7 linked regions of the Homo sapiens genome follow. The protein of the gene in region 2 purifies or fractionates together with the protein of the main gene of each other region. This does not show direct contact. Each region holds a gene or a part of one and is shown on either strand. Other genes may lie near its edges.

What was found.
Region 1: the proteins of SKAP1 (region 2) and TTF2 purify together in Homo sapiens (affinity purification with mass spectrometry; 3 studies listed by BioGRID and IntAct, with this or other methods). This does not show direct contact.
Region 3: the proteins of SKAP1 (region 2) and NPHP4 purify together in Homo sapiens (affinity purification with mass spectrometry; 3 studies listed by BioGRID and IntAct, with this or other methods). This does not show direct contact.
Region 4: the proteins of SKAP1 (region 2) and NEK1 purify together in Homo sapiens (affinity purification with mass spectrometry; 3 studies listed by BioGRID and IntAct, with this or other methods). This does not show direct contact.
Region 5: the proteins of SKAP1 (region 2) and SUGCT purify together in Homo sapiens (affinity purification with mass spectrometry; 3 studies listed by BioGRID and IntAct, with this or other methods). This does not show direct contact.
Region 6: the proteins of SKAP1 (region 2) and PLEKHH3 purify together in Homo sapiens (affinity purification with mass spectrometry; 3 studies listed by BioGRID and IntAct, with this or other methods). This does not show direct contact.
Region 7: the proteins of SKAP1 (region 2) and PAX3 purify together in Homo sapiens (affinity purification with mass spectrometry; 3 studies listed by BioGRID and IntAct, with this or other methods). This does not show direct contact.

What each region holds. Positions count from the first base shown.
Region 1 is NC_000001.11:117,066,388-117,070,435, reverse strand, and holds part of TTF2 (transcription termination factor 2), read right to left. Parts: intron 1-4,048. UniProt on the Homo sapiens protein: DsDNA-dependent ATPase which acts as a transcription termination factor by coupling ATP hydrolysis with removal of RNA polymerase II from the DNA template. May contribute to mitotic transcription repression. May also be involved in pre-mRNA splicing.
Region 2 is NC_000017.11:48,185,272-48,189,319, forward strand, and holds part of SKAP1 (src kinase-associated phosphoprotein 1), read right to left. Parts: intron 2,656-4,048; coding exon 2,572-2,655; intron 1-2,571. UniProt on the Homo sapiens protein: Positively regulates T-cell receptor signaling by enhancing the MAP kinase pathway. Required for optimal conjugation between T-cells and antigen-presenting cells by promoting the clustering of integrin ITGAL on the surface of T-cells.
Region 3 is NC_000001.11:5,873,378-5,877,425, forward strand, and holds part of NPHP4 (nephrocystin-4), read right to left. Parts: intron 3,922-4,048; coding exon 3,716-3,921; intron 3,147-3,715; coding exon of another isoform or gene 3,144-3,146; exon of another isoform or gene 1,738-3,143; intron 1,724-1,737; coding exon 1,497-1,723; intron 1,281-1,496; coding exon 1,094-1,280; intron 1-1,093. UniProt on the Homo sapiens protein: Involved in the organization of apical junctions; the function is proposed to implicate a NPHP1-4-8 module. Does not seem to be strictly required for ciliogenesis. Required for building functional cilia.
Region 4 is NC_000004.12:169,399,128-169,403,175, forward strand, and holds part of NEK1 (serine/threonine-protein kinase Nek1), read right to left. Parts: intron 2,734-4,048; coding exon 2,525-2,733; intron 1,525-2,524; coding exon 1,394-1,524; intron 1,231-1,393; coding exon 1,098-1,230; intron 1-1,097. UniProt on the Homo sapiens protein: Phosphorylates serines and threonines, but also appears to possess tyrosine kinase activity. Involved in DNA damage checkpoint control and for proper DNA damage repair.
Region 5 is NC_000007.14:40,270,818-40,274,865, reverse strand, and holds part of SUGCT (succinyl-CoA:glutarate CoA-transferase), read right to left. Parts: intron 354-4,048; coding exon 210-353; intron 1-209. UniProt on the Homo sapiens protein: Coenzyme A (CoA) transferase that reversibly catalyzes the transfer of a CoA moiety from a dicarboxyl-CoA to a dicarboxylate in a metabolite recycling process.
Region 6 is NC_000017.11:42,673,734-42,678,557, reverse strand, and holds the start of PLEKHH3 (pleckstrin homology domain-containing family H member 3 isoform 1 precursor), read left to right. Parts: upstream 1-1,563; 5' UTR 1,564-1,994; coding exon 1,995-2,156; intron 2,157-2,168; exon of another isoform or gene 2,169-2,333; coding exon of another isoform or gene 2,334-2,627; exon of another isoform or gene 2,628-2,657; intron 2,658-3,682; coding exon of another isoform or gene 3,683-3,817; intron 3,818-4,148; coding exon 4,149-4,204; intron 4,205-4,544; coding exon 4,545-4,624; intron 4,625-4,723; coding exon 4,724-4,824.
Region 7 is NC_000002.12:222,229,330-222,233,377, forward strand, and holds part of PAX3 (paired box protein Pax-3), read right to left. Parts: intron 2,955-4,048; coding exon 2,749-2,954; intron 1-2,748. UniProt on the Homo sapiens protein: Transcription factor that may regulate cell proliferation, migration and apoptosis. Involved in neural development and myogenesis. Transcriptional activator of MITF, acting synergistically with SOX10.

The sequences.
Region 1 (4,048 bases), on a different chromosome or scaffold from region 2:
TTTGTTTAGATATACAAATACTTAGCACTGTGTTACAAATGCCTGCAGTATTCAGTAAAGTAACACACTGTACAGTTCTGTAACCTAGGTATGTATTAGGCTATACCAAGTAGGTTTGTGTAAGTTCACACAGTGACGTTCACACAAAAATGAAATCTCCTAATGACGCATTTCTCAGAATATGCCCCCATTGTTAAATGACTCATGACTGTAGTGTCTACTTTAAAACTCATGCCATGTAGACTTTCAGGAGAAGGGCAAGATTTGCAGAACTAAGGAAAGAAACACACTGAACATCTGCTATGTGCTAGGCACAGTGCTAAAAATGCTTTCCCTTACATTTTTAATTAAAATCAATCTGGATGAGCTTTTCTGATTTTAGGATAATAAGTTTGTTTGTTACGTTTTATTATATTGTAAATCAACAAAGAATGCAGTGGAAATATATTTTCGCAGAGAAAGCAAATATCAATTCCACTATAAGAAAAGCATTAATTTCTGCAGTATGTTTATTAATTGTTTTCCAGGACAGAGGTTATAGGCAATAACGATGAAGGGACCAGCTAGAAGAAGCCAGACCTCTTCAATCCTGACTTCTTCACCAAAACACAAATCCTCCCATTTTCCTAAAGGTAATGTCCAACTCAACATCACACTGCCAAGTGCATTCACTTTAGCAAGGCTACAGTTCTCTCAGGCTCCAGAACTATTCTCCCTTGGTTCAAATCCCAGCCCTACCACCTAATTAGTTCTGAAACATCAGACACCTTAATTGACTGCCCCCTGTGGCAGTTTCCTGTTCTGTAAAATGGCAAAATGATATAGTCCATACCTCATACGGTCATGATGAAGACAAAATACAATCAGAGCAAAGCCTGATACATACCAAGGTCTTAAAAGACAACAGCAATGCCAAGCTCACACTGGCTGATCACTCTGCTTATTCCTACATCCACACTTCTGCTGAAGCTGTTCTGCCTCAACACTTCCTTGTCCTTTCCTCCATCAAAATTGTCAAGGTCATTCAAGGACAACTTCAAGTCTCAACTCCTCTACTTTCTCTGTAACCTTCCTAGCCCTGAACTGTATGTCTTAGAGTCACAGAACCATCTCGCATCTGAACGTCTTCAATTTAGCGCTCTAATGTGCAGAGGAGACTGCACCCCAATCTCAGTACATCTAACTCTTATTCCAGCTGTGTCAAAGGCTCCTTAGGGATTATGAGTTCACATCTTTACATGGTCCAGCTCTGGAAAAACATAAAGCCGAATGTCTACCTCATTCTTTTACACGAACTTTCAAGATGGAAAAAAATGTAAAAGTAAAAAACAAAATTGTAAATGTTCTAGGAAAAAAAACAGATATGAATATTCTTGTAGTCCTAAAGTGAAGAAGGCTTTTCTAAGCCTGGGATAAAACTCTGAAGCTGAGAAATAAAGAATTTAGTAATTTTTAAAAGTTTACACTACCATATGATGAAAATACCATAAGCAAAATTGTAAGACAAAAAGCAAACTGGGAAAACGTAACTACCACACATATCACAAAGGGTTACTATACTTTATACAAAGGGATTGCTCGCACTGCACAGTGCAGTGCATGGTACTGTACACCGCCTCACAAGTATGGCTTTATTCAGTGGTCCTTCACAGCTGGTGGGGCCTGAGGTTCTGGCTGGGTCTGGCGCATGCCTGGTTGCCTCTCTATCACCATCCTGCTCACTATACTAGGGCTAGATAATCTGCAGGTCAATTTCACCCAATAGCCAACAACACGAGGAGTTTTCTAGACATGTGAAGTTTCAAGGGTTATTAAAAGTAAAATATTTTGAACATCTACCACAACCAATTAATTTTTTTTTGGAGGTGAATATTTTTCTTTTTTTTTTTTTTATTACACTTTAAGTTCTAGGGTACATGTGCACAATGTGCAGGTTTGTTACACATGTATGCATGTGCCATGTTGGTGTGTTGCGCCCATTAACTCGTCATTTACATTAAGTATATCTCCTAATGCTATCCCTCCCCTCTCCCCCAACCCCACAACAGGCCCCAGTATGTGATGTTCCACGCCCTATGTCCAAGTGTTCTCATGGTTAAGCTCCCACCTATGAGTAAGAACATGCGGTGTTTGGTTTTCTGTCCTTGTGATAGTTTGCTCAGAAGGATACCACAACCAATTATTTAAAGAACTAAAACTTGTTATACCCACGTCTAAGCAAAGAAATATTTCCATTTATTTTGACCCTGTATCCTTGAGTGAAAGTTCTGTGAGAAACAGAGAGAAAGGAAAATATGAACTCAGGAGCTCAGTGACAATGCCCAAAATTTGTATACCAGGGTGTACCACATCGTTCATGTCAAGGCAAGATTTCTTCCCCCTGGTTCTACTGAGATTATCAGTTTTCTTTACTGCCTGTACACAGAGGGCCATGGCCGAATGGCTAGTCAAATGCTGGTCAGTGGTGCCATCTGGTGTTTCAGTTAGAGATCTGCACACAAATGCAGCTACACTGCAAGAGATGAAAAATGGGCATCTTCGCCTCAGTTTACACCTCCCTTCTATTACTCTGTTGCACCTGTCTCCTGACTACATTCAGCCAAACATAATAGTATTAATTAGAGGATGTAAAATATTTAAGTTATTAAAAAGAAAACCCAGAGTATGTGAGGGAAAGGCTGTACTCTCATAGGTCACTCTCCAGGGGTTCTGGCTGAACACCCTTAATGTTCACTAAGGAAGCCATCATCCATATATAGACTTATCTATTTCTGTTTAAATTCCCAGTCTATGCTACCTATCAGAGTACCTGGTTTTCTGTTGTTATTGTTTTTTAATGTGTTGTGTGTTAAGAACTGCCTTTTACTTTTATTTGTCCTAAGACAACTTTTTTTTTTTTTTTTTTTTTTTTGAGACTGAGTCTTGCTCTGTCATCCAGGTTGGAGTGTAATGATGTGATCTTGGCTCACTGCAACCTCCGCTTCCCCGGCTCAAAGTGATTCTCCTGCCTACTGAGTAGCTGGGATTACAGGCACACGCCACCATGCCCGGCTATTTTTTGTATTTTTAGTAGAGAGAGTTTCACCATGATGGCCAGGCTGGTCTTGAACTCCTGGCCTCAAGTGATCCGCCGGCCTTGGCCTCCCAAAATGCTGAGATTACAGGTGTGAACCACCATGCCTGGCCCTAAGACAAGCTTTTTAAAGCTCCAGTAAGTACTTCCTAGTAATAGTGCTCTGAATTTAGGCTAAGAGAAATACATGTAACATACTTTTTTGTTCTATTTTAAAATAATAAACCCTTCTCAGTCTTATCCATCTAGTACAAAGAACGTTAACAGCAAGTTCTCAAAATTCTGACCTCAGTCAGGCCTTTCTTCAGAGCTGCACACTCATTTTTCTAGCTGGTTTCACATGAAAATAAGACACAATTTGGCCAGGTGAGGTGGCTCATGCCTGTAATCCCAGTACTCTGGGAGGCTGAGGCAGGCAGACCACTTGAGGCTAGGAGTTTGAGACCAGCCTGGCCAACATGGCAAAAGCCCATGTCTACTAAAAATACAAAAATTAGCTGGGCGTCGTGACACACACCTGTAATCCCAGCTACTCGGGAGGCTGAGACACGAGAATCACCTGAACCTGGGAGGCAGAGGTCGCAGTGAGCTGAGATTGTGCCACTGTACTCCAGCCTGGTTGACAGAGCAAGACTCTGTCTTTTAAAAAAAAAAAAAAAAAAAAAAAGACATGATTAGTCCAAAGCTGTATGTGTTTGCCACACATCCCAATACTCGACCAACATTACCTTTCTTCCTTGTCCTGCTTAACGTAAACACATTACCCAGAAGCCCCACCTTAGCAACCGTTTCCCTACTGAGCACTGACAATGTGCCAAACACCAGACCGAGGCCATCACACACGTTCTCTCTCCAAGTCCTCCAACCCAGGGAAGTTAGGGCCATGTGAGCAATATTCCAGATGAAAAAATGGAGGAAGGAACACGTTTATATGCCCTACCAGGAAATACATCTCATCAGTGCTCTTTCAGCAAG
Region 2 (4,048 bases):
GTCCCAGAATCGCCTCCCATGCCCTATGTAGCATTTGGGCTAAACTTCTCTTCCCCTTCCCTGCTGGTCAGGTGGGAATTTATGCCAGAGGGAGAATAATTAAAACTCAGTATTTTATCCTCCTTGTAAGAGGTCAACCTGGGAAGTAGCAGAATAACGTTGAGTATTATTAGATGACGAGGAAGGAGATAAAAGGAAAAGGACCATAAGTGAAGAGAGACTATTCTGCTTGTCACTACTTAAAAAAAATGTTAGAAACAGAAAAAGAGGAGGTGACTCTCAAGAATTTTGTATCCTCATTGTGTGGGTCAGGCAGAACACACAGAGAACAGGAACCACAGTGTCTGGGATGCTTTGAGCTCTATATCATGTGAAATGAATTGCTTAATAAATGCCTTTTGATGATGATAATGATGACAAGGATGGCAGTGCGATGCCAATATTAAAAAAGAAAGAAGAAGAAAAAAGACTGTGCTCACCTGGTTGAGCTAAAAGAAATACACAAACACTATTCTTACTAAGAAAATGTCATGGGCACAGTAAGAAATAACTGGCGAGAAGGGAGCCATGGAACAGTGCTTTTTGACACCAGAATCTTTTTTGTTAAAGTATCTCTCCTTGTTCTAACTGGCCACTAAAATGTTTTGTTGTTTCTTTGGTCACCAGATTTTATTTCACCCTAATGGCAAAATGGTCAATAAAAGCTTCCGAGTCTCTTGCTCTTGCTCTCCCTGCTCCTCTCTCACCGTGAGTATGGAAGATTCTGAATGAACAGATGTGACACACCTGGTTTTATATCTAGATATGCCAACCACTTATTTAAATGCAAAATAAATGATGAACATATTTACAGTGAGAAGTGTCATATTAGTTTGAAGTTTTAAAATAAGAAAAGAACAACTGGCTGGATTGAATGCCTATAATTTAGAGGAGAAATTGTGGTTGCTGGGTTGGAGAGTGGGCTGGGGGTTGGAAGGACACAGAGGACTTGTAGCTCAGTTTACAAACTATGCTGTTATCCTTCCCAAACAGGGCTTTAGCCTTTGCCCCTAGATGCGAAATGTTCTGAGGAATCTAGGATGGTGAAAGGTAGGCAAAGGTCTGTGATAACTACTGCAGGCAGTGTGAGACAATTGCTTGGGCAAATCTTAAGGATTTCAAGTCACTTAGCAAAGCTGCAGTTTTTATTTATTTATTTATTTATTTATTTATTTATTTATTTATTTATGGTTGAGACAGAGTCTCGCTCTGTTGCCCAGGGTGGAGTGCAGTGGCGTGATCTCGGCTCACCACAACCTCCACCTCCTGGGTTCAAGCAATTCTCCTGCCTCAGCCTACAGGCACATGCCACCATGCCTGGCTAATTTTTGTATTTTTAGTAGTAGAGACGGGGTTTCACTATGTTGGCCAGGTTGGTCTTGAACTCCTGACCTCATGATCTGCCTGCCTTGGCCTCCCAAAGTGCTGGGATTACAGGCGTGAGCCACTGTGCCTGGCCCAAAGCTGCAGTTCTTTCCACTACCTTAGTGCCACAGGTGCAGGAAGTACAAAGGCAACTGGGTGGGTGTCTGATTATTCCCTATATTGGATATCCAGGCACTGGGAAAGCACTAAGTTTGAGGAAGGAGAAACAGAAAATGATTGCAAGGAAAAAGAAGAGTCTACTCAAACTGTATCGCTGGCCTCTGTACGAAGGTGCACAGTACAAGGAAAGCCCCAAGAAGAATTGATGCTTTTTAAACTTTGTCTCCCTCTTGCGTCTTAGAATTACTCCTGGGGCAGTCCAACTCTGTAGAAGAGTATCCCCTATTCGAAAGTTTGCATTCATCTATAATAATAATTTTTAGCTTGTCTTTATTTGTAATTGCCTCCAATTGTGCTTATATCCTCTATTTCTTTTCATAAACCAATCAATTACATTAAACATGGATGGGAGGTCTTCTAGGGTTAGCTCATGAGTGTTGACTTGATTAAGTCAGTGGTGGCTCATTAAGAAACTATCTCTGGCCCGAGTCAACACTTCACTGCTGCTGTCATCTGGCTGAAGGGCATGCCTTGGGTACAGCAACCATTTGGGTCTCAATATTCCATGGCTATAGGAATGTCCACTGGACTACTTACTTACTAGCAGTCATGAAGATAAAGCAGGGAGCATGCCCTTAGGGGGTTCTATTTCTGGGCCATTGTTTAAGTTCTTTAAGTCTTTCTCAGAATTAATTTATTTCAATTTTTAGCTATGGTATTGATGCCTGTAAAGAGTTTGAAGTTCTTTTTATTTTTTTTAAAAACCAAAACATTCAACTTTGATAATGTGTTGTTAATCATCATAAAAGATAACCATTTGATGTGCTGACCACACTCTTAGTGTTTAAAGGTGAAATAATTTCTAAATTGGGTTCTGCTTTTTCGGTGATGGGCAAGGTATTATTTGTCCATGCCAATTTCTTTCCTAAGCATGTCCCTTTATGGGTGTTAGTTAAGGACTGCTATCTTGGGATCTAAGTGCTTGAGAATTTACGAAGTGTTTGCATCCAGGAGTGAGATGCTGCTGTGTAAATGAAGAACACTTACTCTTCTCATTAGCATAGTAGTAGAAGAGACCTCTGCTGACAACACACCATCGCTTCTGCCACTCCGATCCAAAGAAACTATGATCTAAACAGAACAGCAGTAGGGGACATAAATTCAGGTAACTACCATCATTGAAGAGTCTGTAAAATCCAACAACATACAGTCCAGTGTGTTATTGTTTTATTTCCCAGGTTAATGGACTGTAAAACCCTCCTTTTCACTCCCACAGGTTATCCCATATTGACTCAGGGTCCAGGGGACTAGCTCAGTCAAAGGTCCAAGTTCTAAACAGGGTTGCCTGCTCTGTGCCCCCACAGCTGTCTTTTTATCTAGACTCCTTTATATCTTTCGGGTTCTAATCTCATCCTGTACATTTTCAAACTCTCCATTATATCTTTATGTGTTGCCTTTGACAAAGCAAAATGATTCTCCAGGCCTTGGCCATGAAAGAGCCTTTGTTTTGGTGCTGAGCCAATTTGCCTGTTGAGTGTTAAACCTGAGATGCCAACTCTAGTGGTACCTACTCTAATTAAATGAGTTAAAGGTCAAGAGTTGGGTTTGAAGGCAGAAGTGGTGGCTCACATCTGTAATCCCAGCACTTTGGGAGGCTGAGATGGGAAGTATGCTTAAAGCCAGGAGTTTGAGACCAGCCTGGGCAACAAAGTGAGACCTTGTCTCTATAAAAAAATAATAAAATAGCCAGGCACAGTTGTGTGCACCTGTTGTCTCAGCTCTTTGACAGGCTGAAGTGGGAGCATTGCTTGAGCCCAGGATTGGAGGCTGCAGTGAGCTATGATGGCGCTACTGTATTCCAGCCTTGGTAATAGAGGGAGATCCTATCTTAAAACAAAAAAAGAAAGAAAGAAAAAAAAAAGGCCGGGTGTGGTGGCTCATGCCTGTAATCCCAGTACTTTGGGAGGCTGAGGCGGGCAGATCACTTGAGGCCAGGAATTTAAGACCAGCCTGGCCAACATGATGAAATCCTGTCTCTGCTAAAAATATGAAAAATTAGCTGGGCATGGTGGCACGCACCTGTAGTCCCAGTTACTCAGGAGGCTGAGACAGCAGAATCGCTTGAACCAGGAGGTGGAGGTTGCAGTGTGCCAGGTTCACACCCACTGCACTACAGAGTGAGACTCTGTCTCAAACAACAACAACAACAATAACAAAAACAAAAAACAAAAGAGTTGGGTTTATCTGAAATTTGAAAGTAGACTGCTTCACATATGATACAAAAACTACACAGTGGGAGCACACTGAGAGATGAGGACAAGAACACCATTCATGGATTCAACAAGTTTTATCAAGCACCTGTCACATACCAGGCATTGGGGATACAGAGGTGAGCAGGACATAACCATCCCTATCCTGATGAAGCTTACAGTCTGCTCAAGGCTGGGACATCTCTCTTTAGCCTACACGAAAACACCAGACTCCTTTCCTTTCCTTGCTTTGCTTTTGCCTTGTATCCGCCTAG
Region 3 (4,048 bases), on a different chromosome or scaffold from region 2:
ATTAGGCGACCAGCACCTGTGCTTAGAGACACCACTGCCACCCAGCTGGGAGCCACCAGCCTCCTCTCACACTGACTCTCCAGGCAGCAACCATCACCAACCGGCCTCACTGTGCCAGAGAAGGCTGAGGCTGCCAGGAACAAAGGGAACAGCAGATCCCAGGTGGAAACCCGGCTCTGCCTGAAGCCAAAGGCCTGAGGTCCCACCTGCAGTCCTCACAGCCCATCCCAAGAGCCAGCATGGCATCCTGTGAGTGAGCCTCTAGGGACATCTCAAGTCCACCTTAAGCGATGACCACCACCCTAGAGAGCTGACCCCAAAAGGTCAAAAGCTGAAACACACACTCCACACCCCATGCCGGCCTCACGCACCCGGGCATGACACACCCCCTGCAGGCACACCTCACACACCACCCCCTGCACACAAGTGCACACCTGCACACACACCTCACATACTCCCTGCACACACACAACTGCATGTCTGCACACACCTCACACACTCCCTGCACATCTCACAGACCCCTACACGCACAACTCCTGCACGCGTGCCTCACACACACCCTGCATACATGCCTCCTGCACACACACCTCACATATCGCCCCTGCACACACACCTCACATACATCCTGCACACATACCTCTTGCACATATACCTGCTGCACGCACGCTCCCTGCACACATGCTCCCTGCACGCATGCTCCCCGCACACATGCCTGCAAAGCTGCATCTTGCATAGAGCAGACAGTGCTGCAGTCGGAAGGGACCAAACAACATTAACTGGAAAGAAGATGCTAGAAAACGTCAATCCATTAGATTCACTGGGCTTTAAGAAGCCCTTCCAACCAACTTAGTAAAGAAAATTAGGAGGAGATGGTCCAGCTCGACACCCATCAGGCTGGAAAAGAGAAGGGGCTGGTTGCCACTTGCAGTGTACATGCCAGGGCTCTTGTTGAGCACCAAGGGGAGTGGGCGGCAGCCCCAAGGCTAGTCTGTCTGCACAGGTAAGGGAGGGACACTGGTGGAGACTGGAAGCATTCTCAATTTCCCACCGTCATCAGCCAAATGCAACTTCCCTGTGTGCCTGACACCCGCACCTGCACCATGGCCAGCTGCCCTGCAGAGAAGCTCTGGAACTTGAAGGGGACGTGGGCGGTCTCGTGGGGGCGCAGGTAGAGCTGGGGGGCCAGGCTGCCACGCAGGTGGAACATGTCCTCCTCCACCGGTGTGTGCAGGCCAGCAGCACCCTTGAAGTCCCTCCACTCCTGACTGTCCACGATGACGCTGGGGGAGGCAGTGTCCAGGCGTCAGGGCAGTTCTTCCCAGGAGGACCCACAGGAGGCTGCGGTCCCACCCACCGAGAGCGGTGCTCAGAGGAGTGGGAGAGAGAAGTCAAATCGCCCCGGCTCTCGGGCAGAATTCGAGCCAGCTCAGCAGGGGTGCCGGCTGCACCCGACACAGATCTGGGCTGGGGCAGGACGGGCACCACTGAGACCTCACCTGAGCTCGGGGTTGTCGATCTCCACAGTCACCGTGTGCTGTGTGTTGTGGGGGTTCTTAAGCACAAACTCAAAGAACTCGGCGACCCCCAGCGTGGCGTGGAGCGTGTGCTCCGTGGTGATGGCCAGGCTCAGCAGGCTGGCGATGCTCTCGGCCTTCGTGCGTTCCCGGTAGGCGGCGATGACCTGTAGGTCCCGCAAGTGCTGTGTGCGGACGCTCTGCTGCGCCTGCAGACAAGAGGACATGGGTGGACAGGGTCCCAGGCACACTCTCCTCCACAAGGGGCTATTGCTGGCTGCCCACCACCCGCGATCTCAGAAGAGGACATTTCTCCACAAGCATCGCCACCACCACCCCCTTCCTTGACCATGTGGTCTGGGTGGAACTGGCCGGCCCCGCCCAGGCATGGATCTCAGGCAGTGCTGGACAGAGATCTGCTGGCTGTGTCCCTGACACGGAGGTCCACACAGCATCCCTGCCTATTCCTGAGAGACTCTTCACAGACACGAGTCTGGCCCCCCGCACGGTGGAGAATCAGAAGTTTCAAACAAGAGAAAAGAATGGCCTCAAAACTATGGTGACAGGCCTCACCAGCCAGGTCCCCAACACAACTTTGGGAGCCCTGCCTGGGCCCAGCGTCCACAGGAGAGGACATGCCCCCGGCCTGCTGAGTCTCGGTCACACCGGGTCAGAGTCCAGGCAAGCAGCACGCTGCCTCAGCAAGGCTCAGCCACCCCCTTGCTCTGATGCCGCAGGGACTCAAGGGGCTTGGCCAGCACACATGGGTTCTACAGGTTGGAGACTGGCCTGTTTTTCCTGTGGGACTTACAAGAAAAAGTAAGGCCCACTAGAGGCTGCCTTGCAAGATCTCAGGCCTGGAAGGGGCCACCCCCATGCCGGGGAGTCAGCCAGCCTGCAGCTACTCCAAGAAGCCGCTGCGGCCGGGCGCTGGGAACCTTCTGTCTAACACAGAGGAGGCTGAGGCGTCAGAGAGATGGGCTGACTTCAGTGCTTTCAGGATTTAACTCAAAAGGTGAGGACAAAATTTGATTTCTGGCTTAAATGACTTTGGACATTCACTTTCCAACATCCAAGGCTCTGGCTGTTCCTTTGCAGGGGGATTGGAGCTGGCCTTTCACACTTGGGGCCTCCATCAGAATTTCATCCTCAGAGCTTTTCAGGAGTGGAACCTCTGACAGGCTGTGCTGGACGATGGGGCCAGACATGAGTTAGGATGAGAAACAGGGATAGGGCTGAGAGTGGCTCCTCAATTCCAAGCTTATGCTGACAGAGCTAAGGTTATCCAGGCTAGGGGCCTCCAGAGGCCACAGCTTCAAGCCCTGCCAGCTGGGAGGGAGGGAGGAAGGGAGGGAGGGAGGTGGGGTGGGTGTCCTGAGGCCTGGGAGGAGGCCCCAGTCATGCCCTGGCCCTGCCCTGGCCTCCCTCTAGTCCCTCCCTCCTCCCTGACCACTGAGCCCACCAGTCCTGTGGGATCAGGCCAGGCCTCCTCACCCCGTGTCTTCTCACCATGCCTCTTCCTCGCCCCATCAGACTGAACTGAGCCTAGGGAGGGACCGAGGCGTCTGCATCCACCTTTGAGCACCAACGCCTTGCTGGCAGGGAGGCTGAGTGGCAGCCCTGCTGAGTTTACTGTCAGGAAAAGGGCCACCTCTGTTCAGACCCCGGCCTACCTACATGCAAGGGGGAATCTCAGGAGATCTTTCTCAAGGCCCCTGTGGTTCCCGACTTCTATGAACCCAGGAGGTACAACCATTCTCACCTCCCATTTCTTAGTAGCAAAATATTAAAAGTTCTATTTAGATTTTCAGCCAAAAAGGGGAATTTTTCTAGCCAGAATGATTACATTGACAACCCAGGATATGTCAGTTGTTCACAGCTCTGGTCCCCAGACCTGGGAGAGCCTCAGAATCACCTGCAAAGCTTTCTTCAAACCCAGGCTCCAGGGGTCCTGCCCACACCAATCAGTATCAGAATCTCCAGGGGTGACGCCCAAGAACTGGCTTTTATTAAAAGCTCTCCAGATAATTCTCACTTAAAGATTTCCCCCGGTGGCTGAAAAAGTCCGATTTTCTTATATTCTGTCCCCAGGATTTGGGAGGAAGGTAAGAGAGAATCATGTGGGAGGCAGGGAAAGGATGTGCACAGTGACTCAGTCTGCATGGAGATCCCAGGACAGTGACAGCTGAACAAACCCTTACCAACACGCTCGTCCCGCGCCGGCCCAAGTCTCCCCCGGCCTCCTGCAGGCGCACAGACCTCATCCGCTCCAGCTTACGCCTGCGGGTGGCATCCGACTCGCGGCTGACGTCCTGGGGCCCCTTGCCCTGCCGGGCATGGGTCAGTAGCATGGCAGCCAGCTCACTGTCCACGTCCGCCAGCTTCTGTGCTTGCACCACGTGTTTTCCTGCGAAAGGGTCAGAGCGCGAGTCAGGTAGACGTGCAGTGTCTGCCTTCCAGGAGCAGACACCAGGGCAGGCCTCCCAGGACCACCTATATAGGGAGGGAGCTCAAGAGTGCGGCTCATGCTTTTT
Region 4 (4,048 bases), on a different chromosome or scaffold from region 2:
CAAGCTACTCAGGAGGCTGAGGCAGGAGAATCACTTGAACCCAGGAGGCAGAGGTTGCAGTGAGCTGAGACTGTGCCACTGCACTCTAGCCTGGACAACAGAGCAAGACTCCATCTCACACACACAAAAAACGTTTAATACCACATCCTTGATAAGAACTATTCTAGGGCCAGGCGCAGTGGCTCACATTTGTAATCCCAGCACTTTGGGAGGCTGAGGTGTGTGGATCATCTGAGATCAGGAGTTCAAGACCAGCCTGGCCAACATGGTGAAACCCTGTCTCTACTAAAAATACAAAAAGTAGTCAGGTGTGGTGGCGCACGCCTATAATCCCAGCTATTTGGGAGGCTGAGGCAGGAGAATCACTTGAGCCCAGGGGGTGGAGGTTGCAATGAGCCGAGATCACGACACTGCACTCCAGCCTGGGCAATAAGACTCTGTCTCAAAAAAAACAAAAAAAAATGAATTATTCTAAGTTATAATCTTCTTTATTTTTATTTATTTACTTTTTTGAGACAGGGTCTGGCTTTGTCACCAAGGCTGAGTGCAGTAGCACAATCACAGCTCACTGCAGCTTCAAACTCCTGGGCTCAAGCAATCCTCCCACCTCAGTCCCCTGAGTAGCTGGGACTAGAGGTGCCCACCACTATGCCTAGCTAATTAAAAATTTTTTTGTGTGTAGAGATAGGGTTTCACTATGTTGTCCAGGCTGGTCTCAAACTCCTGGCCTCAAGCCATCCTCCCACTTAAGCCTCCCAAGTAGCTGGAATCACAAGCATAAACCACGGCACCCGGCTAGGATTATTCTAATTGCTAGAGCTGTCCAAAAATCTATCTAGTAAGATTTTTAAAAACCTCATTCAAAGGTTACTTGTAAATTAAATTAAAAATATGGACTTAAAGGACTTAAGTCAGTAAAAGTATATGACAGATCAGTAAAAGTACATGACAAAGTTAATTTTATTATTGCTTAAAAGTTATATAGTTCCCAAGTAGATTTCACAAAATGGATGTGATGTAAGCTGATTCATATACATGTATCATCTTGTTTTTCTCACATTTACTGAAAATTATACAGACATGTGAGGAAATCTTACCTTCTTGGTAGGCTCCATCTGCCATGACTAAATGAAGAATCTTGGCATAAAGATGCTGATGTTCATTTCCCAAAATATTTTGAACTATTTTTGAACAAATTTCAATATTTTCATCTTCATCTTCATGAATAGCCTATACCAAATTCCCAAATATAAATTAATATTTGAATAACTTTCTGTAATTGCAGACTTCACTTTTTATTTATAATAAATCTAATGACCAATACAGATTATCAACATTTCTTCAACCTTCAAACATAGCACATTTTAAGTGTTTTAATTGACTTTTCACTTACCTTTATTTTCTCATAAACCTCAAAGAATTTTTCAAAGCCCATTTCCTGCTCCAGATGAAGTCTCAGTTCCTCTAAATGGTTAAAGACACTATCGCATTCACATTCACTAGCAATTTCACCATCACTGTTATCTAAAAAACAAAATTAAAATAGAGATTTGATTTAAAAAGACTGAATAACTCATACCCTAATAGACTAAAATTCTATGACAAATGAATAATGCCATTGAAATAGACTACTTCTACTTTCATTATAAACAGTTTTTGTCATTTTAATATTTGTCCTTTATTTGGCAAAAAAAATGTATAAATCTGTCTAAACAAGAATGTTACTTTTCATGTATAGATATAAAAAATAAATCAGGTTGGAATCAAAACACTCCTAGAGATGTTACTTAAATAAAAAAAAAAAAGTGGAAAAAGCACACCTCCATGTTTTGCTTTGAAGCAGCTAACCCTAACTAGTATTTTCAAAAGTTGGTAATAAACACGGGAAACACCATGGAAAAGCCTGCAAAAGGTAGACAACCTAAGACATACATCATTACATTTCAGGAAAGCACCTAGAAAGTATAAATGGCCAATATGTTTTGTCATGTACGTGCTCGACATACTTTGAAAAAAATTACTTAGTCTTTTCACATTAGCTTTTCTTCCTAAATTAATATCATATAGTTATTGAAACAGACACACTTTCTATGCATCTTAGGGGTAATATTATGAAAGAGAAAGTTTACAAATTTACGAAAAGAGTTTTTAGTACTTTAAAAACTGCTTTCAGTGTTAACTCTGCTGGTTAATATATGCAGAAGCTCTTTCTAAAATATAGAATGCCAAGAAAACAATGTTATTATCTTTATTACTGGAAAAATCAGTCAATAAATGGAGATTAGAATAAAAATGCTTCAAAAAAGCATTGACATAATAGGAAAGAAATAAAAACTTTAATAAAAAATGGAAAATCACACATTTGTATGAAAAGAAAAAGAATGAAAAAAGGGGAGAGACCCAGAGGCATGCTTCAGTTGTATTTAAAGTTGGAAATGGTTCACAGCAGAGATTAGAAAAATACACTCTACTTGAAATATTTGTAAACTGAAAAAGAAAAAGGTCCAAAACTCTGATCATGCACCTGAGTGCCATTCTTCGTTCAGGGCACTTTCACTGCTGGGATTGTCATCTTCATCTGCCACATCTGTCCCATTTGCAGTTGGCTCCACATCACTGTTCTTCAAGACTGACTCTTCTTCTTCACTGTATTCTTCACCAGGTTGTTCCCTAAGTAACTGTTCCATCGAGGCCTGCAGCTCTTGTAAATCTGTGTCAGTTTCTTCAAACACACTGAAATTTAAAAAGTATAACTAAAAGTTTCAAACATACTGAAATTTACCAAGTTAAACAACTAAAACTACCTCATACTGAAATTTTACTTCTACTCAATACGTAGGCACTTCTTAAAAAATCCTAATAGTAGATAACAAAAAATCTGGAAAAAGCCTACATTGTTTTTCACCGGTAAATTGAGGATGAATACAACTGATAAATATATCACACAACACATATTCTGGAATATATAAGCCAGAAGATGATTTGTTTAAAATGATCCCAACTTGCCAAAGAGAATCACATAACTATCGATGTTACTCATTGCTTAAATTCTGAAACAATGTTTTGATATTTTAACAGGCCAGACTATAGAAGTTTTTCTAAAACAAATAATAGTAAATTATTTTCTCTTTTATGGAATTTTGTAATTTTCAAAATATCCATGTGGCTAATAGCTAGACACTATACAAAAGGCTTTCCATATACATGCCCATTGGGCATTTGAACTTTTAGAAATAGAAATACTTAGGAAATTTTATATTCATGTTAATAGGATGACCCAGTGAATAAAATGGTCACCAGAAATCTTATCTTTAGATGCTTATTCTTAAAAATGTTCTAAAATACATAATAGATTTTCTGTGTAACTAGCCTATACCAACCATCATAATTCTTCACTGGAGAATTTTGTTTCCAAAGTATTGGTAAGAATATTCATTCTATTTTCATGGGATTATAGATGCTGGAATGAAATAACTTATACAAATAATACCTTACATTTATATAGAACTTTTGTTTTTTAAACATTTTTATCCTACTACTCAAATTTTATCCACAAAAAATCACTTTAGAGACATGAAAACTATGAACCAAAATGTTTAAATGACTTGGTCAAGGCCACATAGTCAGTAAATGACAGAGCACTGAAATCTAGTCTTTGACCACTTCTGTAATATCTGAGAAACATACTCAGAAAAATTTTTTTCCTCTTATGATTTGCTTCTTTATCCTAACATGGAATGTAAATGGAAAAGTTTGTAGACTAAAGGAGTTAACTGATGTTTTAGATGTCTGAAGACTTCTAAAAGAGATTATGTACCTAAGCCGGGATTTCATCTATCAGGAAGGCAATGCTTAACAGGACACAAGGGCTAATTAAGGCCTTTCTAAAAGTTTAGACTCCAATCAAATATTTACTGAAGAACTAAAATATAAACACTATTGTGTAAGACTGTCAATATAATTTCCATTAATAGAGTAAATAATCTTTTTATGTAGAAATATCTTTATTTTGTACTTATATGTACAAACGCCTACAATTTGACTTGTA
Region 5 (4,048 bases), on a different chromosome or scaffold from region 2:
CACGCCATTGCACTCCAGCCTGGGCAACAAGAGCAAAATTCCATCTCAAAAAAGAAAAGAAACAAGTACATCAAAATGAAACAGTTTTCAGTGTTGTTGTGTTGGTTTTTGTATTGTTTTTGTACATGTGACCATAGAATTTGATCTGAAAAGGTATAACCCAGACACAGTTTTTATAACATTATCTGAAATGTTAGTTGGATTGTTACCTGGGATGACAGTAGGTTACAATCAATGAACAGTCCTTTCCCAGTTTTGTATTTTTGTATCAATCCAGCCATAATAGCTCCATATGCATACAGGCCAGTGGCAAGATCAGTCATAGCTACTCCTGGGCGAACTGGATCTCCATTCTGATTTGAAGGTTGGGTTGAGAAAGAAGAAATAATTAAACATTAAAAGAATCATATGATTTCTCAAATCTTCTAATGTGAAATAGAAAAAAGAATTGTCTATTAACTGTGCAGACACATACACACAAGAAAGTTAATAAAATAAATTGCTATTGTGAATATCTGTTGGTAATAGGAAAATATTTATATTTACTATATACTTCTCAGTGCATTTCTCTCCCCAATGCCTACTAACCAAACTAAAAATAAAAGATTTTTTAGAAACCGATCTGATGTTTCAATGTTTTAAATTCCTTCTTGATATATTTTATCTTGTTTATGCTAAAAAAATTAATTGAATTTAAATGAGTTAATTTGTTGGGGAGAAAGAGTTAAAGCAGTGTTTTTCTCCTATTGGGTGAGAGGCTCTCTCACAAAAAAAAAAAAAAAAAAAAAAAAAGAAGGTAAAAAATCTGGTCAAACCTCCTTGTAAGCACACCAATAGCTGGCAAAAATACTAACAGTGTTTGCTTAATAATTTAAAAAAAGACTATTTACCCATAAAAAGCTGTTAGCAGACTGCCCCTGAATTAGGATTACTATGATAAACAAACTGAGAATCTCAAGATTTATGGGACATGGAGCACTGGGCACAGGGCATGAGCTTTGCAACTATCTGGGTATAAAACGGAGATGTTTCACAGCCTGTAACACTCCCTGCTAATAACTCATATATTTCATTAAGGACCTCATCTACTGCTTTGGGCCACAGAGTTTTGTCTATTGCAGTAAGAAAGGATCCGGGGGCCTCTCTCAATGTCCCAGACATGTCTCTGCTTTTTCTGAGCCTTTTGATTGCTTGTATTCTTGAAATTATAAGGAAAGCTTAATATTGATTAACATCTCCACTTCATGTCAGTCTGATTTGACAATCCAATCCTTGGCCCATATGTAAAGATGTTAGAACAGTACTTGACACAAAATAAAAATCACCTATCAAAATTATCAACATTGTTATTAGTCATTGATATATCAGATAGTTTCTACTTGTCACTACCTTTAATTCTGCTAAGCCTTAAATCGCACAGAATACCTAAAAAAACTCACATTTCATACTTCATCTGGCTGATGCAGTGATTCAATTACCTCCTTATTAAGTCTAGCTTCTGTTGAATCATTTTCAGAAGTTAATTTGTCCTTTTTTTGTAGCCCATCATAAACCATGTTAATTGTTTTGCAAAAGTACTGTTTTGCAAAATAATGTTTAAAGCAAGTAACTGAGACGGTATAGTAGCTAAACTTATTTTTCCCTGCTTTTCAATACAATTTCAAGGACGATATTGCCATGAAACTTGGAAATGTCTGGCAGTTTACTATTATTATTGTCAAAAGTTGTAATGTAATGCCTTAAATCAATACACTTAAAATTAAATTTGTCATTAGAATTTAAAATTATTTAATGTCTTAAAAGTGAGAGACAAGTTCAAAGTTACATTGACCCTTGAACAACAAAGTTCTGAACTGCATGGATCCACTTATACGTGGAATTTTTTTTCAATAAAAGTTACACTAAAGGCTGGGCACGGTGGCTCACACCTGTAATCTCAGCACTTTGGGAGGTCAAGGCGAGTAGATCACCTGAAGTCAGGAGTTCAAGACCAGCCTGGCCAACATGGTGAAACCCCGTCTCTACTGAAAATACAAAAATTAGCCAGGTGTGGTGGCACATATATGTAATCCCGGCTACTCAGGAGACTGAGGCAGGAGAACTGCTTGAACCCGGGAGGCGGAGGCTGCAGTGAGCTGAGATCGTGCCACTGCACTCCAGCATGGGTAACAGAGCAAGACTCCATCTCAAAAAAAAAAAAATAATAATAATAATAATAATAATACCATATGATCCAGCAATTCCACAGCTGGGTAGATATCCAAGAAAGAAGAAAATCAATCACGAAGAGATATGTGCACTCCCATGGTTACTGCAGCACTATTGACAACAGCGGAAATATGGAATAAACCCAAGTGTCCATCAAAGGATGAATGGATAAAGAAAATGTGTTCACGCACAGTGGCTCATGCCTATAAATCCCAACACTTTGGAGGCCAAGCAGGAGGATCACTTGAGGCCACGAGTTCAAGAACAGCCTGGGTGACAGAGTAAGACCCTGTCTCTACCAAAAAATACAAAAATTAGCCGGGCATGGTGGCACACACCCCTAGTACCAGCTACTTGGGAGTCTGAGGTGCAAAGATCACTTGAGTGCAGGAGTTCCATCCAGGCTGGAATGAGCTATGATCATGCCACTGCACTCCAATCTAGGCAAAAGACTGAGACCCTGTATATATATATATATATATATATATATATATATATATATATATATATATATATGTCACATTGCAGTTGTTTTTGAAACATCCATATATATATATATATAGAGAGAGAGAGAGAGAGAGAGAGAGAGCGAGACAGAGAGAGAGGAATATTATTCAGCCATAAAAAATTAGCTGGGCAAAGAATAAATTCCTGTCATTTGCAACAATATGGATGTCACTGGAGGACATTATGTTACATGAAAGAAGCCAAGCACAGAAAGACAAATATCACATATTCTGACTCAGATGTGGAAGCTAACAAAGTAGATCTCATGAAGATAGAGAGCAGACTGCTGGTTACCAGAGGCTGGGAAGGGTAGGGGGAGGAGAGATGAAGAGAGGTTGATTAGTGGGTACAAACATACGCTTAGATGGAAGAAATAAGAATTGTTGTTCAGTAGATCAGTACGGTGACTATAGCTAACATCAAAAGGCTGTACATTTCAAAATAGTTAGCAGGGAATAATTGGAATGTTCCTAGAACAGAGAAATGGTAAATATTTAAGGTGATGATGGGTATATCAACAGCCCTGATCTGATTATATTAATGTATGGAATGATCACATGAACCCTGAAAACATGTACACCTATTATGTATCGATTTTTAAAAAGCTAAAAAAAAATGAAACTTCTCAACCTAATAAAGGGCATCTATTAAAAATCATAACCCAGATCACACTTAAAAGTAAAGAACTGAATGTTTTCCCCTAAAATGAAGAACAAGACAAGAGGCCAGGCACGAAGGCTCATTCCTATAATCCCACACTTTGGGAGACTGAAGGGAGGGCCACTTAAGCTCAGGAGTTGGAGCCCAGACTGCACAACATAGTGAGACCCCCGCCTATATATTTTACAAAAGAAAAAAAATTTAACTAATTATTTTTTAAAAGAATGAGACAAGGATGTCCACTCTAACCACTTCAATTCAACATTACACTGGAGGTTTTAGCCAGTGCAGTTAGGGTACAAAAAGAAATAAAATGAATTTAGGTTGCAAAGAAAGAAGTAAAACTATCTCAATTTGCAGATGACCCAGTCTTATATATCAAAAGTCCTAAGGAATCCACTAAAAAACTCTTAGAACTAGTAATCGAGTTAAGCAAGATTGCAAGATAAAAGCCAATATACAAACATCAGTTGTATTCTACACACTAGCAATAAACAAACAAAAAATGAAATAAAGAAAGTAATTCAATTTATAATAGGATAAAAAAGAATAAAATACTTAGAAATAAATTTAACAAAAGAAGTACAAACTTATACTCTTAAAATAATAAAATATTGTTGAAAGAAATTAAGACAAAAATAAACCAAAAGACATCTCACAGTCATGGAGCAGA
Region 6 (4,824 bases), 5.5 Mb from region 2:
CTGGTCTTTGTTTTACACAATCACAACGGGCAGGATGGTGTTCACGTGCGACAGTTCTCGCGGTTTAATATCGGTCAGCAAAGCTGTCCCCACCGCTCCAGCCTGGAGTCTAGGGTCGAGAAGGGCGGGGCGTGGCGAGGAGGTCTCAAGGGAGGTGCTGGCCTGACGGCCCCGCCCGTCCCGCCCTTCCCCGCCCCTCCCCGCCCAGCCCAGCCCTGCCCAGGCTAGCAGTCCTCAGAGCCTCCCGCAGCAGCGGCGAAAAGGGGTCCCCCACGGCCTCTAGGGGCCAGGATCCAGGGAAGGCCCGGAGACGGCGCCGATCCTCAAAGGGTCCCACACGCCAGCCACTGGGGACCGACCTGGAACCCTCCATCCAAGATCTCTGGAATCGCCGCTGAGTCAGCAACGCGCGCGCGCGCCCGCGGAGGCCGCGGCCCCGCCCCGGCCGCCTAGCGCCTGAGTTAACCCCTTCCTATACAGAGCCGCAGGATATTAGCCCTAAGAGGCCTCCACTGTATTCGGAGACCACAGAATTCCTTAGAATCCAAGTCAGTCTCCCCAGCTGAGTTCGGTGAGCTGTGAGCTCTATATTCGATTTTATTTCCGGCCTAGGTCTGCACCTTCCCAGAGTGCCTGCCTCAACTCCTTCACCTCGAAAAGGAGGTGAGGCCGAGTGCAGTGGCTCATACCTGTAATCCCAGCACTTTGGGAAGCCAAGCTGGGAGGATCGCTTGAGCCCAGGAGTTAAAGACCAGCCTGGGCAACATAGTGAGACTCCATTTCTACAAAAAATAAATTTAAAAAATTAGCCAGGCATGGTGGTGTACGCCTGTAGTCCCAGCTCCTGGAGAGGCTGAGGTGGGAGGATCCCTTGAGCCGAGGAGTTCGAGGCTGTAGTAAGCTATAATGGCTCCACCGCACCCCAGCCTGGGCAAGACAGCGAGACCCTGTCTGGAAGAAAAAAAAAAAAGGGTGGGGGAGAGCTGAATCAGACCGAGAAACTGGAGAAACTGGACTCCTTCTCCCCAGACGTGGAGGGCCACCTCCAGAGCTGTGTCCTCGCAGGTCTGGACATCCTCTTAGTAGCCAAGGCGTTTCCCTTTCTCAGGGACCCTGAGACGAGACAGGGGTTCAGAGAGCGGCAGTTGGGTTTTCCTCTGTCCTGTGCCAAAACTCCTCAACAGGGTTTTTAATTGGTTGGTGAGCCAAGAGTTAAAACAAGAGCCTGAAGGCGGGCTTCCGTGACGTCACTAGCACCCCGCGTCCGACCTCAGAGACTGGGGCGTGGCTAACATAGCCTCGTCCCCTCCCTCCCTGTTTCCCCGCCCCTCCCCGCTGTCACCAAGCCAGGGGCACATGATGCAACCCAACGCGGTTTCAGCCGTCTGATTGGTAGCCGCGCCCGGCGCCAGGCACAGGGATTGGACAGAGGAGACTGTGACGAAACCTGGACCCTGCCTAGTAAAGAAGGGAGGAGAGAAAGAAGAGAGAGGGGGGGCCCCCCGGGAGGGAGGGGGCCGGGGGGGCGGGGTCCCAGCTCTGTGCTCGCGCCCCCAGCGCGCCAGTCCCGGGGCTGCAGGGAGCGCAGCGCGCGCGGCCCGGGCCCCGGCCACCGGACGCCCTACCGGACACGACCCTCCCTGGAGCTTGGACAACTGCCCACCTCGGACGCTGCACCGGACACTGCCCCCCACAGGGCTGGACACTCCAACGGACACTACTTCCCAGCTCCGGACATTGCTCCCTCCTCTCCCGGGGCCCTGGACGCTTTTCCCCCTCCCCCCTCCGGGGGCCCAGACACTGAGCCCCCCTCAGCGTCTGGCTAGCGTCCCCTTGCACCCCAGCCCAGGACACTGCCTCCTCCCTGTCCTCTTCTCCCTTCTGCTCCTCCCACCTCATCTTTCCCCTGCTCGGGTCGGAGCCCCGCCAGTTCCTCCGACCCCCTACTGCTCGGCCGCGGCTGCCCGCGCCCCCATCCGCAGCTCCTCGCCCGGATGCCTCTCCCCGGGGGACTATGGTGGCTTCTCTGCTGCCGTCGAGGCTTCACTCTTCTGCACCGGGACTACGGGGACGGCGAGCTTAGCGGGGACGGGGACGAGGACGAGGACGAGGAAACCTTTGAGCTGCGGACCCCGAGTCCAGCGGGCGGCGGGAGGGTAAGTCCCGGGGGTTCGGAGCCTCGTCTCAATCACTCTCGCTGTAACCGGCCGTCACGCTGATCCGCTCCAGCCTCCAGCCACACGCTGCGCGCTTGGCGAACTAGGGATGAGGGAGAGTTTTTTGCCTGGGGGCCAAAGCCCCCGGGAGCTCTCGGAGCAGCAGCCCTACTCGGGATGTGCCTGTGGGCCTCCCGCTGCAGGCTGGGCGCTATCCACCTGCTGGGGGCCCTGAGGCAGGGGAGGCGTCACGCGTGGCCCGACCTGGCCCTGCCTCTCCCTTCCCCGCTGGGCCCGCGTCCCATCCCGTCTCCTTCCGCCTCCGCCAGCGCCGAGGAATGTGGCGAGGCCGGCTGGGCGGCTCGAACGCCTGGGTCCCCCTCCGCTCCCAGTTCGCAAGTGCGGAGGCCAGATGCGAGAGCTCCCGCTGCGGAGACCTGGACGAGGGGGAGAAGTCATCCCAGGATTGGGGTCTGTGGCGGGGACCCCAAGGAGAGGGAGGTGGGAGCTCTTTGAGGACCCCTCCTCATTACCCTGCCACTCAGGACAGAACTCTCGGCTTTCCCGGGTGAGGCTCCTGGGAAACCCCTGAGGGGATGGATGGTGAGGGACACTGGGCTGCTGCCTGGTTTTGTCGAATCTCCCCGTGGGGAAACGGAGGCACGATTGGTGTGGGAGACCTCCATCCCTTGACGTCTCCTCCCCCATCCCTCCTGCACACTGGCGGCCAGACTCCCGTGTGCTGTGGCCCGGGTCAGGCTCCCATCCCCCGCGCAGGGGTCCCCAGCAGGCCCAGTGGCTCGGTGCCCGGGTGGGGCGGGCTGCGCCGCCGGGGCCGGCGCCAGCACCTGGCGGAGGCGGAGGGTGGATAAATATAGAGGAGGGGGGAGGGAGGGAAGCAGGGCACTGCGATTAGGGGAGTTAGCCTAAGAGGGTGGTCAGTACCTGCCACATGTGGTGTGGCTGACAGCCCCACTCAGACCTTCCAGAAAATAGGTGGAGGTTCACGTAGGAAGGGTGCAGGACCCAGGCGTCCCCAAGCTTCCAGCTTGGGCAGGGTCGGCTTTACCAGGCCATTGCCTCCCTCATGCTCCACCTCAACTCCCCCCTTCCCTGAGCCTGGGGACAGGTGTCCCTGGCCCCCTCCCCCACCTCCCCCTCTTGGCTCTAGCAGTCTGGGAGCAATATGAGGATGGCACGGTTCCCGCCTGACTGGCCTCCGGGTTGGGTTTGTGGCCTCTCTCAGACCCCAGTCTACAGTTGAAGTTCCAGGACAGGGGGAAGGGAGGAGGAGGGGGAGGGGGAGGGCAAAACCCTGAACTACACCTGCCTCCAGAGGGTGTGCCATTCCTCAGTCTGGCCCGCCCTTCCTAAGCCCCAGCAAAGGGGCAGGGTCTCTGCTCACCATTGAGTCTCAGGAGTGTCTATGGGAGAATGTAAGACGCTTTTGGAGAAAGCCCTATACTGAAAGGGTCCCTCTGCCCTTCATTCACCTCTGTGCCTACCACCTGTCCTGCCTTGGCCAGGGAGGCAGTGTGGAAGAAGGGAAAATGAGGAGGAGAGGGTGCCTTGGAGCCTGGCAGAACGAGCTCACCTCTCCTGTTTCAAAGATGGGGAAACTAAGGCCCGGAGACGGGAAGAGACTTGCCCAAGGTTCCACAGTGAGTTAGTGGTGGGGCGGGAATTGGAACCCAGGTCTCCTGACTCTCTGCCCAGTGCTCTTTCCACCCTACCCTACCCCTGATTGTATTTTCAAAGGGTAACTGAGAGGAGCCTTGGCTCCTTAGCTCCTGCTGTTCTGAAGAGCTTGTCCTGTTAAGACTGGCGGGAGGGGCGAGCCCAGGGGCTCCAGCGTGCTCCACCCTAGTCACGACCCCACTCTGTGACTCCTCCTTCCTCAATCCCCTGAGCAGCCCTGTCCTGAGGGCAGAAGGCACGAACCTTGCGCAGGAAGGGCTCTGACCCTGAGGGCTTCCCCGCCTGTCTCCCCAGGGTCCCCTGGAAGTGACGCTGACTCAGCCAGTGAGGAGCGGGCCTGTCTCCAACAGGTGAGCTACGCCCCTACGTCCCATAGTCTGGCGACCCCAGCATGTTCCCGGGACCCCCATCCTCTCTGTCTCCCCTAGCGGTTGTGCAATAAGGGAGAGGCCCTATGCCGGACGCTGTGGTTTGGCTGGGGTCCCGGGGGGCGGTCCGGCTGGGGGCGCGGGGAGAAAGAGGGGGGTCGGGGCTATTTCTGGTTCGAGGTCAGAATGGCCCAGCGGTTCCCACAGCCTGGGGGAGGGGTGCCCAGCTTGGGAGCAGACACCCGTGCGGTCTGGGGAGCCCCTACAGAGGAGCCCCCTAGAGGCAGAGTGGAGACCCAACCTTCCCTCCCCTCTGGCCCAGGCTGCAGAGCTGGGAGGAGACTTGGAGCCTCATCCCGGAGAAAGGGCTGCCGGAGGACGACCCGGACATCGTTGTGAAAGGTAGAGACCCCCCTCAGTGCACTCTGGAGGCCCCCAATCCCAACCCCCTAGGGATTAATGTCTCTACTGATGTCCCTTCCCTCCCTCTCCGGCCCCCAGGTTGGCTGTACCGGGAGCCCCGCGGAGGAGGGGCGCGGCCCTGGCTGCCCCCGCGCCGAGCCTGGTTTGTGCTCACGCGGGACTCCCTGGATCAGTTCAGC
Region 7 (4,048 bases), on a different chromosome or scaffold from region 2:
TCTATTGAAATATTATGACTTAGTTAATAAAGGTTATTTCTACACTGTGTGGTGGGGAGAAACACTCTGTTTCCCAATGATAATAGGTTTCCCAACTTTAAAACACCAGCTCTGTGAACCTTGGTCTATCTACAACTCTTCCTTTCACTCACCTTCCTCCCCACTTCTAGATTACACAATCGGTTGTCCATTCTACCTCTGAATACCTTCACCACCATCTCTTCCTTGCCATTCCCACTGCCACTACCTATCTCATGCCATAGCCCCCACTCCCTGTCACATCAAATGTGAGCTCACTGGCCTGAAACCCAAGACCTCCATAGGATATCCTCAGCCTACCTACCAAACCCTATTTCTTCCACCACCCTACCACTCCTTACATTCTAATCAAACTAACTATTCTCCCAATATGACTAGAGTGAAAAAGAAAGGTTATCTTACGTGTAGCCCACCACTTCTACCTCTCTGTGCCTCTGCTCATATAATTCCCTATTACTAATATACTCTCCTTATGCACCTGGTCCAGTGAATATCTATCTAGCCCGGAAAGTTCATCTTAAATCTGCCCTCTGGGCCCAGCACAATGGCTCATGCCTATAATCCCAGCACTTTGGGAAGCCAAGGCAAGTGGATCGCTTGCACCTGGGAGTTCAAGAAGAGCCTGGGCAACATGGCAAAATCCCATCTCTTCAAAAAATTATCCAGGCATAGTGGCATGCACCTGTAGCCCCAACTATCTGGGAGGCTGAGGTGGGAGGATCACCTGAGCTCAGGAGGTGTAGGCTTCAGTGAGCTGTGATTGTACCACTGTACTCCAACCTGGGCTACAGAATGAGACCCTGTCTCAAAAAAAAAAAAAATTAAATCTGCCTTCTTCATGTACCTCTCTTCATTCCTTCAAGATCTCATCCCTTGAGTTCATGTCCTTTGCAGGGACATGGATGAACCTGGAAACCATCATTCTCAGTAAACTAACACAGGAACAGAAAACCAAACACTGCATGTTCTCACTCATGAGTGAGAGTTGAACAATGAGAACACATGGACACAGGGAGGGGAAAATCACACACCAGGGCCTGTTGGGGGGTGGGGGGCTAGGGGAGGGATAGCATTAGGAGAAATACCTAATGTAGATGACGGGTTGATGGGTGCAGCAAACCACCATGGCACGTGTTATACCTATGTAACAAACCTGCCCCTTCTGCACATATATCCCAGAACTTAAAGTATAATTTTTTAAAAAAAGGTTGGGCATGGTGGCTCATACCTGTAATCCCAGCACTTTGGGAGGCCAAGGCGGCCAGATCACGAGGTCAGGAGTTCGAGACCAGCCTGACCAACATGGTGAAACCCCATCTCTACTAAAAATACAAAAATGAGCCGGGCCTGGTGGCAAGCACCTGTAATCCCAGCTACTTGGGAGACTGAGTCAGGAGAATCGCTTGAACCCAGGAGGCAGAGGTTGCAGTGAGCTGAGGTTGTACCACTGCACTCCAGCCTGGGTGACAGAGTGAGACTCCACCTCAAAAAAAAAAAAAAAAAAAAATCTCATCCTTTCCTCTTCTCAACTCCCATTGCACTTTTTCTCTTTCTGCACTTATCATGTCTGTGTTATTTTTAAATTATTTGTATGTTTATTTTTTTACCTTTCTTAGATTGCAACTCCTTCAGAGAACTGTCTTAATTGATCTTAGCATTCCTTGACTTTCCTAGCACTATGATGATCATATGGAAGTTTGAAGAAAACAATCTCTCTGACTGAGCTCTGCAGCCTGGAAGAGGCTATTTCTGTAAAATTCTGTAATAGGAGAGTTAATTAGCTGCATCTATGAACGTGTTGATCAATCTAGGGACCATGTCAACTGACTAGTCCACTGCTGAGTCCCCAGCCTGCAAATTAAGAATCTGGAAATAACACACAATATTTGCAGACAAGGTGACTTAACTTCTAGGGTGGTGAGGAGTTCGAGGATACCCTACGATATCTGCCATCTTTCAAACACTGTTTTACTAGCTCCAGGAAGTAGTTCTTCATTAATGATGAAAACATTATTCTATACTCTATAGAAACATATTACATCTAAGTAGCCTTTCCAGAAGGTTCAGAGCACCTCTAAGAGTTCAAAAGATAATTCAACATGTTCTTTAAGTAATATAATTTCTTGAAATGCTTCTTAATTATAAAATCGTTAAATGAAGGAATTTCATGTTATGCACCTTTGCACATTTTCATAATTGAAAGGTCACAGAGATGAAGCGTATGGGATCCAATTATCTCTAGACTCACTTTGCAGCTATGCCACCTTGGGTAGTTACTTATATAGTCCAAGTCTCAGTTTCCTTATTTGTAAATGGAGAGTAGCAATCATGGTACCCACCTAGGATTTTAATAATGATTCAATGGGTTAATTCATGTGAAGCACTTAAAATAGTGGCTGGGACAGAGTAACCACTCAAAATTTATTTGCTCTTACTTGTGTATCACCCCCAAAGTCCATATAGTGCTGGTGTACAATAAGGATTCCTGAAAAGTTGAGTTAGTCACATGAAGTGGTGGACTTCTGTGTGTCGTAAATGATATAGTTGTATTCTGTCAGTAAATAATCAAAGTCCTAACAATATGCATCCCTAGTAAAGGGCCATTCCTAATACATTTTTGGGGGGGATTGACATATGTTTTAGATGAGAAGATGCTTGTTTGTTTCCTGTCTGGACTGAAGTAGGACACGGAGGTTTGGGCAACAGTACCTGTACTCGGGCCTCGGTGAGCTTCGCCCTCTGGGCCAGTTCCTCCCTAGTATAAATGTCAGGGTAATGAGTTCTCTCAAAAGCACGCTCCAGTTCCTCCAGCTGTTCTGCTGTGAAGGTGGTTCGGCTTCTGCGCTGTTTCCTCTTTAGTGGTAAATCTGGTTCAGAGTCAATATCAGAGCCTTCATCTGATTGGGGTGCTGAGGCTAAAAGCACAGAAGAACAAAACATCATAAAATGTGAATCAAAAAAATAAAACTGAGATTGAATCCAAGTTCTCTCTCCGACTGCAAGACACCATTACAGTGATCCCTATACCTAAAGTAAAATAAATGTGGATCAAAAAACAAGTCTAACCAATCCGTAATAATTCAAATCCTGGTCTACAGTGCATTCCCAATGTCTTCCATGGACACCAAGCACCCCGCCCCCATGCAGTCCTGCATCATTAAATAATATTTAATCTCTTCTCCTACTCTATCTTTCTGCCCCCTAGGCAGAAATAATTGCTCATAGCATCTGTCATTCTAGGCCAATTATGAGCTCTTAGAAAACAGGGACAGGCCTTATTCCATTTGTATGGCCCTATGCTTACTACTTAATGGGTGCTTCCTTCGTGTCTAATGAATGGATCACATTGAGTTTTGTTTCTGATAAATTTTCACCAACATTTACATTATGAAATCTGTTAAATGTGATTTTTAAAAATATTCCAAACTTGACTTAGTACCTAAGAAGCGAGTAACAGTTAACTATTCCCAGATTCCTATATATTTATAGACTACTGCTCTTATAAAAAATTATATTTAAATCAGTATCTCATCACCAGATATGGGGAAATGCTTTAAAGAAAATGTATGTACTATTAAAATGTAAATCTCTAGAACTGACCTGAGAAGAAGCAGGCAGGCATTGTCTTGTGAACTGTCCCTAACTAGAGTCTGGGTCTCTGCTGAGTGGGCATCTGTCCAGGACAGCTGCTTTATTTAAGAAAGCCAATGCAAAAAAAAAAAAAAAAAAAAAAAAAAAAAGTATGATCCCTTTTGTAAAAAAATATTATGAGTTTCAAGAAGGCAACAACAGATCATTAACCCAATCCCAGGGCCTTCTGAGTGTGTGGCCCTGAGCAACTGCATAAGACAAAAATGTCCCTGAAGCCACTGTGTGGTGGCCTAACACACACAAAACTTGTGTGTATTTGCCTGTACTCACATGTGGAAGGGAATTTCAAAATTGAGTGGGCAGGTACAGGGGCAAGAGAAGCGGGAAGTGGGAAATTTGATACAAATTACGTTAATGA